Homo sapiens: one gene and its partner. The protein of the gene in region 1 purifies or fractionates together with the protein of each later gene. This does not show direct contact. Each region holds a gene or a part of one and is shown in the gene's direction. Other genes may lie near its edges.

What was found. The genes of interacting proteins can lie anywhere in the genome.
Region 2: the proteins of OR10H3 (region 1) and IRGQ purify together in Homo sapiens (affinity purification with mass spectrometry; 2 studies listed by BioGRID and IntAct, with this or other methods). This does not show direct contact.

Annotation. Positions count from the first base shown.
Region 1 is NC_000019.10:15,735,937-15,741,428, forward strand, and holds the start of OR10H3 (olfactory receptor 10H3), read left to right. Parts: upstream 1-2,048; 5' UTR 2,049-2,115; intron 2,116-5,445; 5' UTR 5,446-5,456; coding exon 5,457-5,492. UniProt on the Homo sapiens protein: Odorant receptor.
Region 2 is NC_000019.10:43,589,054-43,594,107, reverse strand, and holds part of IRGQ (immunity-related GTPase family Q protein), read left to right. Parts: intron 1-740; coding exon 741-2,082; 3' UTR 2,083-5,054. UniProt on the Homo sapiens protein: Autophagy receptor that specifically promotes clearance of misfolded MHC class I molecules by targeting them to the lysosome for degradation.

The DNA of each region.
Region 1 (5,492 bases):
CTTCATCCTGGAAATCCTTTGTTGAATGGAAATCCTCAATGTTGATTTTTTTAATGTTTTAAAAATCATCTTAATGATTGTGCTTTGGAAATTTTGTTTAGGAAGTCTTTCCTCAAGCCTAGATCACAAAGTTATTCTCCTATACTTTCTTCTCTTAAATTTACACCTTGATATTTGGTATTTATTTCTTGAATGCATCTGGATCCTCCTTTGTATGTAGAGTTTGGCAGAAATTCGGATTGACTTGCTTCATAAAATGAGCAGTTTTCTCACTACAATGGGTGAACAACCTACCTTCTCCTCTTGATTTGTGCCAGTACATTTATCGTGTACTATATTAGGTTTTGAATAATGCAGGGTTATTTTCTGAGATTTCCAATCGACTTACCCAGACCTAGGTCTGTTCCACGTTTCATAATTTTAAAAATGACTATGACTCTATTGTGTGTCTCAGCGCGTGGGAGGGAACAGCTCTTCCCTTGATTCCATATTTATTTATTTATTTATTTATTTATTTTAGACAGAGTCTCACTCTGTCACCCAGGCAGCACACTGCAACCTCCGCCTCCCAGGTTCAAGCAATTCTTGTGCCTCAGCCTCCCAAGTGGCTGGGATTACAAGTGGGCCATCACACCTGGCTAATTTTTGTATATTTAGTAGAGACGGGCTTTCGCCATGTTGCTCCGGCTGGTCTTGAATTCCTGACCTCAAGTGTTCTGCCCAGCTCGGCCTCCCAAAGTTCTGAAATTACAGGTGTGAGCCACCGTGCCTGGCCTGATATTTATTTTTCTGAAGGAATTTTCAAATAGTTTTATCAAATTTACAGTTGATTCACTGGAATTGTAAATATAATACAATATTATATTATTGAGTATTATTAAGTATTGAGGTTATAATTTGAGGATGAATTGACACCATTAGCACATCAGGCCATCCCAGCCAAGACTCTATACTGCTCCCCATGTGTTCAGATCATCTTCTACATTTTTATTAGTATGTATTTAAAATTTTTTCTTTGGAGCTATGTCATGTTTTTGGTTAATTCCTAGATATTTTATAGCAGATTTTTTCAAAGTGTGACATGAGGACCTCTGCAGAGTGGTCCCTGAAATCCTTATTTTTCAAATTTACATGTGAGAATATATTTTCATCATATGCTTCAATATATTGCCACAGACTGAATGAAGAGGCAGATGAAACCATCAAGCTGTTTCCTGCCAAGCTAGGACATATGAGGTATTGGCTAAAATGTCAAACAAGGCCACTCTTCTCATGAAATGCTTTTTTCCTAATGTGATTATTTGCCTGAAAATGTTTCCCATATTAGCATTCAATAGACTTACTATTGCTCTTTAGAAATTTTTTTTTGAGACGAAGTCTCACTCTGTTGCCCAGGCTGGAGTGCGGTGGCATGATCTCGGCTCACTGCAATCTCCGCCTCCCGGGTTCAAGTGATTCTCTGGCTCAGCCTCCCAAGTGGATGGGATTACAGGCGCGTGCCCCCATGCCCAGCTAATTTTTGTATTTTTTGTAGAGACCTGGTTTCACCATGTTGGCCAGGCTGGTCTCAAACTCCTGACCTCAAGTGATCCACAAACTTCGGCCTCCCAAGGTGCTGGGATTACAGGCGTGAGCCACCGTGCCTGGGCATGCTTTTTTAAATATACTAATAACTAAATATTTTTAATAATTTTCAATTTTCATTTCCAATATGGTAAAAATGGATAGTTCTAAACCACATAAACAAAAGCCCTTTAGAGTGCTTAGTAACTTTGAGGTGTAAAGGGATCCTGAGCGATGTTTCTTTATATTAATAGTTTGTGTTGCTATTGGGACTGTTCTCTTTCTCTGTATTCAGATTATACTTCTTGAATGCTTGTTACTGGTGTGATACTAGGAGGATCACTGGGGTTTTTGCCAGCTGACCTTGCCTTCTGCATCACTGGGCTCTGTTGCTGTTCTAATACATGATGTCATCATTCTTTCATCTTTTCTAGGTAGATGATCACGTCTCTTCCCTTCCAGTCCTTAGATACCTTAGATAACTTGTTTCTTTCCCTTACCTTATACCATCACTCACGAATTTCAGCTCCATGTTAAAGAACAGCGGAATTAGTGAGTATCCTTGGCTTTTTCTTGACTCTAAAGTGATGCATGGAAAAGTTTCTTCTTCAGTGTTGTATTTGCTAATTTGTGCTATATATTCTATATCTAGTTAAGAAAGTCTCCTTGGATTTTGTGTTGTGAAGTGTTTTTTTTTAAATCATAATAGGAGTAGGGTTTTAGAGAATGTATTTATGCCTTGATTGAAATAATCATGATTTTTCTTTTTAAATCGATTCCTGTGATAAATTGTATGATAGGTTTTCTGATGTTAACCAATCTTGTCATTTATGGAATAAACCAATGCCACTTGATCATGGTAAACTATTTTTAATACACCATTAGATTTGAATAGGTTATGTTTTATTCTGGAATTTTAAATCTGCCTGGATAGGTGAAGTAGGCCTATAATTGTCTCTTTTTCTCGGTGAAGATTCTTGCCTGATTTTAGACAAAGATTGCATTAACTTGAGGAGATGTGTTTGTCAGATTTCCTAACTCTTTTCTATTTTTTTGAAGATCATGTGTAAGATTCTAACCAACTGTTTTTTTTTTTAACAGTTTAATAGTACTTACCGCACTTTAATAAAACCCACTGGGGCAAAGATTTTAGAGAGACGATCTTTGACTACCGTTTCAATTTCTTTAAAGCTTATTTGAGCATATAGCATCCCCTTTTTTCTTGCACCAGTTTTGGAATTTTATATTTTTCTAAGTACTTGTTCATTTCATCTACAATGTAAATTTGTTATTTCTTTTACTATTTTTATTAATTTAAAAATATCAATTATCTCTGTAATTATTTCCCATTTGTAATTTTGGGTTCTGTTATTGGTACCTTCTCCTTGTTTATCTTATTAATTTTTTCCAATAACTTGATTTTGATTTTATTATGCATGATTTTTTTCTTGAGGCAGTTTTTTGATAAAGGTATTTTGAGCTGTATATTTCCTTCAAAGTACTATTTTAGGTTAAAATGTTGACATTCAATATTTAAATTATCATTTAATTCTAAATATTCCTCCATTTTATGATTTACTGTTGAAACTGTAGATTATTTAATTATATAGTTATCTTCCAAACACATGAGATTTGTAAAGCTATTTCTTCCCTATTGATTTTTAATGTTAATTCATTATAATCTATATCATATTATTATGCTTTGGAATTAAATAAATTTTTATATTCTAATGAAATGTCCATTTTTGTAAAAGTCGCTGAGTGGTTGAAAGAGTGTTAATTTTCTTTTTGGTGAAGAGTCTAATATATATAATAGCTAATGTCTGGATATTATTAATTGCTTTGTAATTAATAATTAATAAATTGCATTTCTGAACTCTGTTAAAATTTCTAACTATAATAATCTATCTGCCAGGTGTGGTGGCTCACACCTGTAATCCCAGCACTTTGGGAGGCTGAGGTGGGCGGATCACCTGAGGTCAGAAGTTTGAGACCAGCCTGGCCAACATGGTGAAACCCTGCCTCTACTAAAAATACAAAAATTAGCCAGGCGTGGTGGCACGCGCCTGTAATCCCAGCTATTAGGGAGGCTGAGGCAGGAGAATCAGTTGAACCTGGGAAGGGGAGGTTGCAGTGAGCCGAGATTGAACCATTGCACTCCAGCCTGGGTGACAGAGCAAGACTCCGTCTCAAAAAAAAAATAATCAATCTGCCGTCGATTTGGCTATTTCTATCTATCTCACTGAAGTTGTATTGATTATTTGTTAATGAATATTCCAGGATATATAGTTACATGGATTTATAGTATTGATGCTGTTTGCTATGTTCTTTTAATGGGTATAAATGTTATTCTCTGTCCCTTAGTGTGTGTGCATGTGTGTGTGTGTGAGATGTAAAAATCTTGGTATGCATTGAAAAACTAAACATTTACCTTCATAGTCAAAATAACCAGATAACACTTACAAAAATAATTAGCTGAGCATGGTGGCTCATGTGTATAATCCCACCACTTTGGGAGGCTGAGACAGGAAGATTGCTTGAGGCCAGGAATTAGAGACCAGTTTGGGCAACAAAGCAAAGCCCTGTCTCTACAAAAAAAAAAAAAAAATGTTTAATTAGACAGGTGAGGTGGCACACATCTGTAGTCCAGCTATTTAGGAGACTGAGAAGAAGCATAACTTGAGCCCAGGAGTTCCAGGATGCAGTGAGTCATGATCCTACTACTGCACTGTAACCTAGGGGGCAGAGTGAGACCTTGTCTCTAAAAAATTCACAATTAGATCAATAATAATGCTTTAATATTACTCATACGTAATCATTCATTCATACTGTAATCAAAATGTTCTCTATTGCCTTAAAATACTTACAGCTGGTTATGTAGATCAAGATTCAACTAGTCCCCTATGTTGCATCCAGTTACTATGTCCTGGAATCTCTCTTATCCTTTCAATATACCTCTATCAGTGAAACCAGACCAATTGTTCTGTGGAATTATCCACCTTCTGGATTTTTCTGAAAGCTTTCTCATTATATAATTTAGCTTGTTCCTCCATCTTCTGTACAATGATTATTGTTTTTGACTAGTGGGCATCTTTTCAATCTGGTACCTGCAGGCTTTTAATATTATCCCATTACTTAGTGAAAATTTCATTTTACACTGGTAGAAGATGTCCAAGGCTTTCTTCCATGTCCAGACCACAGATCAGCCATGTGTTAAGGAACTCTACTTCCCTGTAGAGGTGTATTGTATTAGAGACCTTGCGATCATTGTTTCCTTAAATTCCACTTTTTTATTAAGGTTGCAGCCTCAGCTTTCATTTGGTGCATATTCTTCAGACATATATTTACCCATCCTTTTATTTTTGAATTTTCTATTCAGATTTATTAGAATAGTAAATGTGTAATTTGAAATAAGATGGCATAAATGAGTATCAATAAATGAGTATTAAAATAAATGTAAACGGGTTAAATAAGCAATTAAAAGACAAAGACTCTTGGGGAACAAAAATTTAAGGCTCAAGATCAAAATAAATGTTTTCTAGAACTGGCACATTTTCAGGGGAATCTGACCCTGATCATCCATGCCTGTCTCTAATGGCTCCAAGTATTGAAACTTTTCTTTATGTTAGTCAGTGTTAATGGAAACCCAATTAGTAGCCAACATCTGACTTGGTCATCTAATATATTGATCTCGTTTGATCTTTGTCACATTGCTGAATGTTAAGAACTATTATTATTTACTCCATTTAACAGATGAGGAAAGTGAGACCCAGAAAGTTCCACCAGTTGTTGAATAGCATAGAGCTGTTGGGTTTCCATTTGGTCTGTGCTAGAGTCTAAGTTTTAACCACTGTCACTTAATTTTGTTTCTGATCTCACCAGATACAGTATCCATGCCTGGTCAGAACTACAGAACCATATCTGAATTT
Region 2 (5,054 bases), about 28 Mb from region 1:
ACCCGCAATGAGCTTTATTATTTTGGGGCATCCTCATCTACCTCCTTTCTCCAGCTCCCTCTTGTTTCTGTGCCCACTTGCTGGCTACCTCCTGGATTTGCTCTACCACCTGCCAGCCTCCTCATTTTAAAGACTTTAAAACGAGGCTCAGAGAGGGACAGTCCCTTGTCCCAGTACACTGTCATCTTTTTTCCTTAGCCTCACCTGCCCGGGAGTCACCTTAGCCACTCCCCCTTGGTAAGAACTGGTAGATGAGATTTCTCCCCTCACTGACCCTCCTTAGGCCCAGCCCCTGAAAAGAGTGCCCTTGGGGACCTTGTCTCAAATAGTGCTGGACTTGTGTTTAGGCCACAATACAGTTGCGATTCTTTGTTCTAGGCCCCACCCTCTGTGAGCTTTGTCCCACCCAGCACAGCCGACCCTTGGAAAAACCCCGCCCCCAAATACTGTATTCCATGGAAGTTTTAGCCCAATCCCCATTTTAGGCTGGGGTGGGAAACCTGACCTTATGTCCACCCGTCCAATAATCAAGACTCCATTATTGCTTGAAGCCCCACCCATATCATCACTGCCTCTCCCTATCTGGTTTCTATTTGCTGTGCCATCAGTCTGGCCCTTCCCTTTCCTACCCCTGCCCCATTCTGGGATCATTAGGAAAGCTCTGCCCTTGTCATCATAGCCCAGTCCATGTCACCCAGCCCCTCTTCTACCTTTGACCCTGTCCCTTCTTGTCCCCACAGGCTCCTGCCACCGGCGCAGGATGGCTTCGAGGTGTTGGGTGCAGCAGAGCTAGAGGCTGTGCGTGAGGCCTTTGAGACCGGCGGCCTTGAGGCTGCGCTGTCGTGGGTGCGCTCAGGCCTGGAGCGCCTGGGCAGCGCACGGCTAGACCTGGCCGTGGCTGGCAAGGCTGACGTGGGCCTTGTGGTGGACATGCTGCTTGGATTGGATCCTGGCGACCCAGGCGCTGCGCCTGCTTCGGTCCCCACAGCACCCACTCCCTTCCCAGCCCCAGAGCGCCCGAATGTGGTGCTCTGGACCGTGCCTCTGGGCCACACGGGCACTGCCACCACCGCGGCCGCCGCCTCTCACCCAACGCACTACGACGCCCTCATCCTCGTCACCCCTGGGGCCCCCACTGAGAAGGACTGGGCCCAGGTCCAGGCCTTGCTGCTACCAGATGCGCCTCTTGTCTGCGTGCGCACAGACGGCGAGGGCGAGGATCCGGAGTGTCTGGGAGAAGGCAAGATGGAGAATCCCAAGGGCGAGAGCTTAAAGAACGCAGGTGGAGGGGGATTGGAGAATGCACTCAGTAAGGGAAGGGAGAAATGTAGCGCTGGATCGCAGAAAGCAGGCAGCGGGGAAGGTCCTGGGAAAGCTGGCAGCGAGGGTTTGCAGCAGGTTGTCGGCATGAAGAAATCAGGTGGTGGCGACTCAGAGCGGGCCGCTGCGTTAAGCCCGGAGGACGAGACGTGGGAGGTGCTGGAGGAGGCGCCGCCGCCAGTGTTCCCCCTACGGCCTGGCGGACTCCCAGGGCTATGCGAATGGCTGCGGCGAGCGCTCCCCCCAGCCCAGGCAGGGGCACTGCTGCTGGCGTTGCCACCAGCATCTCCCAGCGCTGCCCGAACCAAGGCTGCGGCGTTGCGAGCCGGGGCGTGGAGGCCAGCTCTGCTGGCTAGTCTGGCGGCGGCGGCGGCACCACTCCCAGGGCTGGGCTGGGCATGCGACGTGGCACTTCTGCGGGGTCAGCTGGCGGAGTGGCGACGGGGCCTGGGGCTGGAACCCACGGCACTGGCTCGACGTGAGCGTGCCCTGGGCCTGGCTTCTGGAGAGCTGGCAGCGCGCGCTCATTTCCCAGGCCCGGTGACGCGCGCCGAGGTGGAAGCAAGACTGGGCGCCTGGGCGGGCGAGGGCACTGCTGGGGGCGCAGCACTGGGGGCTCTCTCCTTCCTGTGGCCTGCGGGTGGTGCAGCGGCGACAGGTGGCCTGGGCTACCGAGCGGCTCACGGCGTCCTGCTGCAGGCTCTCGATGAGATGCGGGCTGATGCTGAGGCTGTGCTGGCACCCCCTGAGCCTGCCCAGTGAGGAGTGGGAGGGGGCTTGGGAGTCCAGACTCTGACAGGGGATGCCTGGGCTTAATCCTGGGTGCTTGAAGGGGATGTGGACTCTTGACTTCCAGCTGGGATGTGTGACTTCTTATCACCTGGATTCAGAGAGTCTGGGGGACAGGAATCCTGATTTTTTTTTTTTTTTTTCTTTTTTTTGTGAGACGAAGTCTCTTGTTGCCCAGGCTGGAGTGCAATGGCGCGACCTCGGCTCACTGCAACCTCCGCCTCCCGGGTTCAAGCGATTCTCCTGCCTCAGCGTCCGGAGTAGCTGGGATTACAGGTGCCTGCCACCACACCTGGCTAATTTTTGTATTTTTAGTAGAGACGGGGTTTCACCATGTTGGCCAGGCTGGCCTCGAACTCCTGACCTCAGGCGATCGACCCGCTCCGGCCTCCCAAAGTGCTAGGATTACAGGCGTGAGCCACCGCCCCTGGCCAGGAATCCTGATACCTTTGGGAACCATGGTGAATGACATCTAGACCCTTCTGTCCTGAAGGGAGTTGGTGGCCCAGACTCTAGCAGGGACTATGTCTTTGTCTCCTAGGGAGTAGAAACTGGAGTTACTGGATGTTTAGTCCTCCAGGGAGGCTGGTAGAAGTCCTGTTTCCTAATTGGTGGGGAGGTGTCCATGACTGGGACCTGAACTCCAGTATAGGGGAGGGAGACCTGAGCGCCCCAGGGAGCTGGAACTCTTGGGCTTCAGAGCCTCAGAGGGAAACAGGGTCTACATTTCTCTGGGAGAAAAAGCCTGCACACAGGTCCCCAAGGAGCAGTGGGCTTTGAATCTTGATGGGGTGGCGGAGGCCCCTGGGGTCTGAGACTTCCGGGGTTCTAAGATGGCTGTGGACCTTGGTTCCTAAATATTGGGTAAGGGGAGGTCTGCATCTGGAGGAGGGATCGGGGGCTTGTGCGAGAAAGCTGGAGACTTCTTGATCTCTCCTGGGGAGTGGATGGGTTTCTATAATTGCCCTCCAAAAGCATGTAGGGAGGGTGGTCCCACAAAAATGAGGTGAGGTGGGTAAGAGGTCTGGGCATGGTGGGCTCTGGGAGTAGCCAGGGACCAGGAATGAGGTCTTTTGGGTGTGGAAGGGCAGTAAAGCATACCTCAGAGACAGCTCCTCCAAACCTTGTATTGGGATCCCGGCAACTGCCTCTGTGAGTGTGACTGGGAAGGGATATGACTGCCTTCATCTTCTAGGTGCTGAGCAATTCAGGTGATCTCTGGGGAGTCTGTTTCTCTGTCTCTTTTCTTTAGGAGTTTCTATCTTTTTTTGGCCTTTTTCTCCTGGTATTTAACCATAACCCTTTATGGCCTTGGTGTTTTGTGCACCTTCCTTTTCAGAAGAGCAGCTGTACTGCTGCACTGGTCCAAACACTTCTGTATGGACACCTCGGGTATCCCCAAGAGGCTCTGCTTTCTGATGTACATAGAGGGTGCTGCATTGAGCCAGGGGCCCACCAAATGGGTGGTCAGGCACTTGAGACCATGGGAATATGCCAGGAGTGAATGAAGCAAAGGCAGAAACCACAGTGCCTGGAATGTTCTAGGCTGCTAGCCACATGTGGGGGAAAAGTTGCAGGTTACAGAATTCTTCAGTGTCAAAAACAGAAAAGGAGGATCTGAGAATCCAAGCGATAGAATCCCTTTTGTCGTAGACAGAAAGAGCAAAGTCCAGAGAGGGCAGGCTTGAGGCCCAACAGCACACAGTAAGGCCCTGTGGGTCTGGCCCTTGCCTATTCTCATTCACTGCCCCTTCCCACTCCTGTCCAGCCTGATAGACTTTCCTTCTTTTTTTTTTTGAAATGGAGTCTCACCTTGTCACCCAGTCTGGAGTACAGGGATGTGATGACTGTAGCTGAGATGACAGGCATGTGCCACCACACCTGGCTAATTTTTGTAGTTTAGTAGAGAAGGGATTTCACCCTGTTGGTCAGGCTGGTCTCGAACTCCTGACCTCAGGTGATCCACCCGACTCAGACTCCCAAAGTGCTGGGATTACAGGTGTGAGCCATCATGGCCGCCTGACTCTTTCTGATGCCTGAGTGGCTACCTTGAGTCCTGCCTGGGGACCCATGCACCTGCTGTTCTCTTTCCTTCAAGGCTCTACTCACAACTTCCTGTTCTACTCTCAAACCTTCCTGTGACGGGCTCAGTCAGATCTCAGCTCACGTATCCCCTCAGAGAGGACTTCCCCTCCCTGACCACCCTATCTGAAGTAGCTCACATTCCCCCACTATTCATTTCGGCCAGTTGAGTTTCCTTGTAGCAATTATTACTGTCAAAAATGATCTTATTTATTTACCTGTTTATTGGCTTTTGACCCGTTGCCTGTCCTGTTCTCTGTTGTTTCCCCAGCATCTAGAACAATAGGTGCCTGACACAATAGGTGCTTCGTAAATATTTATTATTATTATTATTATTTTAGAGACAGGGTCTTGCTCTGTTGCCCCGGCTGGAATACAGTGGGATGATCATGGCTCACTGCCATCTCCAACTCCTGGGCTCAAACGATCCTCCCACCTCCGCCTACAGAGTAGCTGGGACTATAGGTACACAGCACCAAATTTTCTGTAGAGACGGGGGTCTTGCTTTGTAGCCCACACTAGTGTTGAACTCCTGGCCTCAAGTGATCCTCCTGCCTTGATGGGATTACAGGTGTGAGCCACCACACCCAGCCTAAATGTTTATTTCATTGGTCAGTGTCAGAACTAGGATTGGAATTTAGATTGTTAATCTCTTGCCACAAGATAGGAAAATGGAGCAAGATGAGGAGAAAAAAGCATTTAATGGGAGAGAACACCCTTGTCTGAGGTCAGGGACCTGGGAAGCAAGCACGACTTTGCCACTGTCACTGTGTGTTACTTGGACAGTGCCTTATTTTCCCATCTGTGAAATAAAAGAGCTGGATAAGAACCTTAGTTTTGAGATCCTGTCTCCCTTAAAAGCT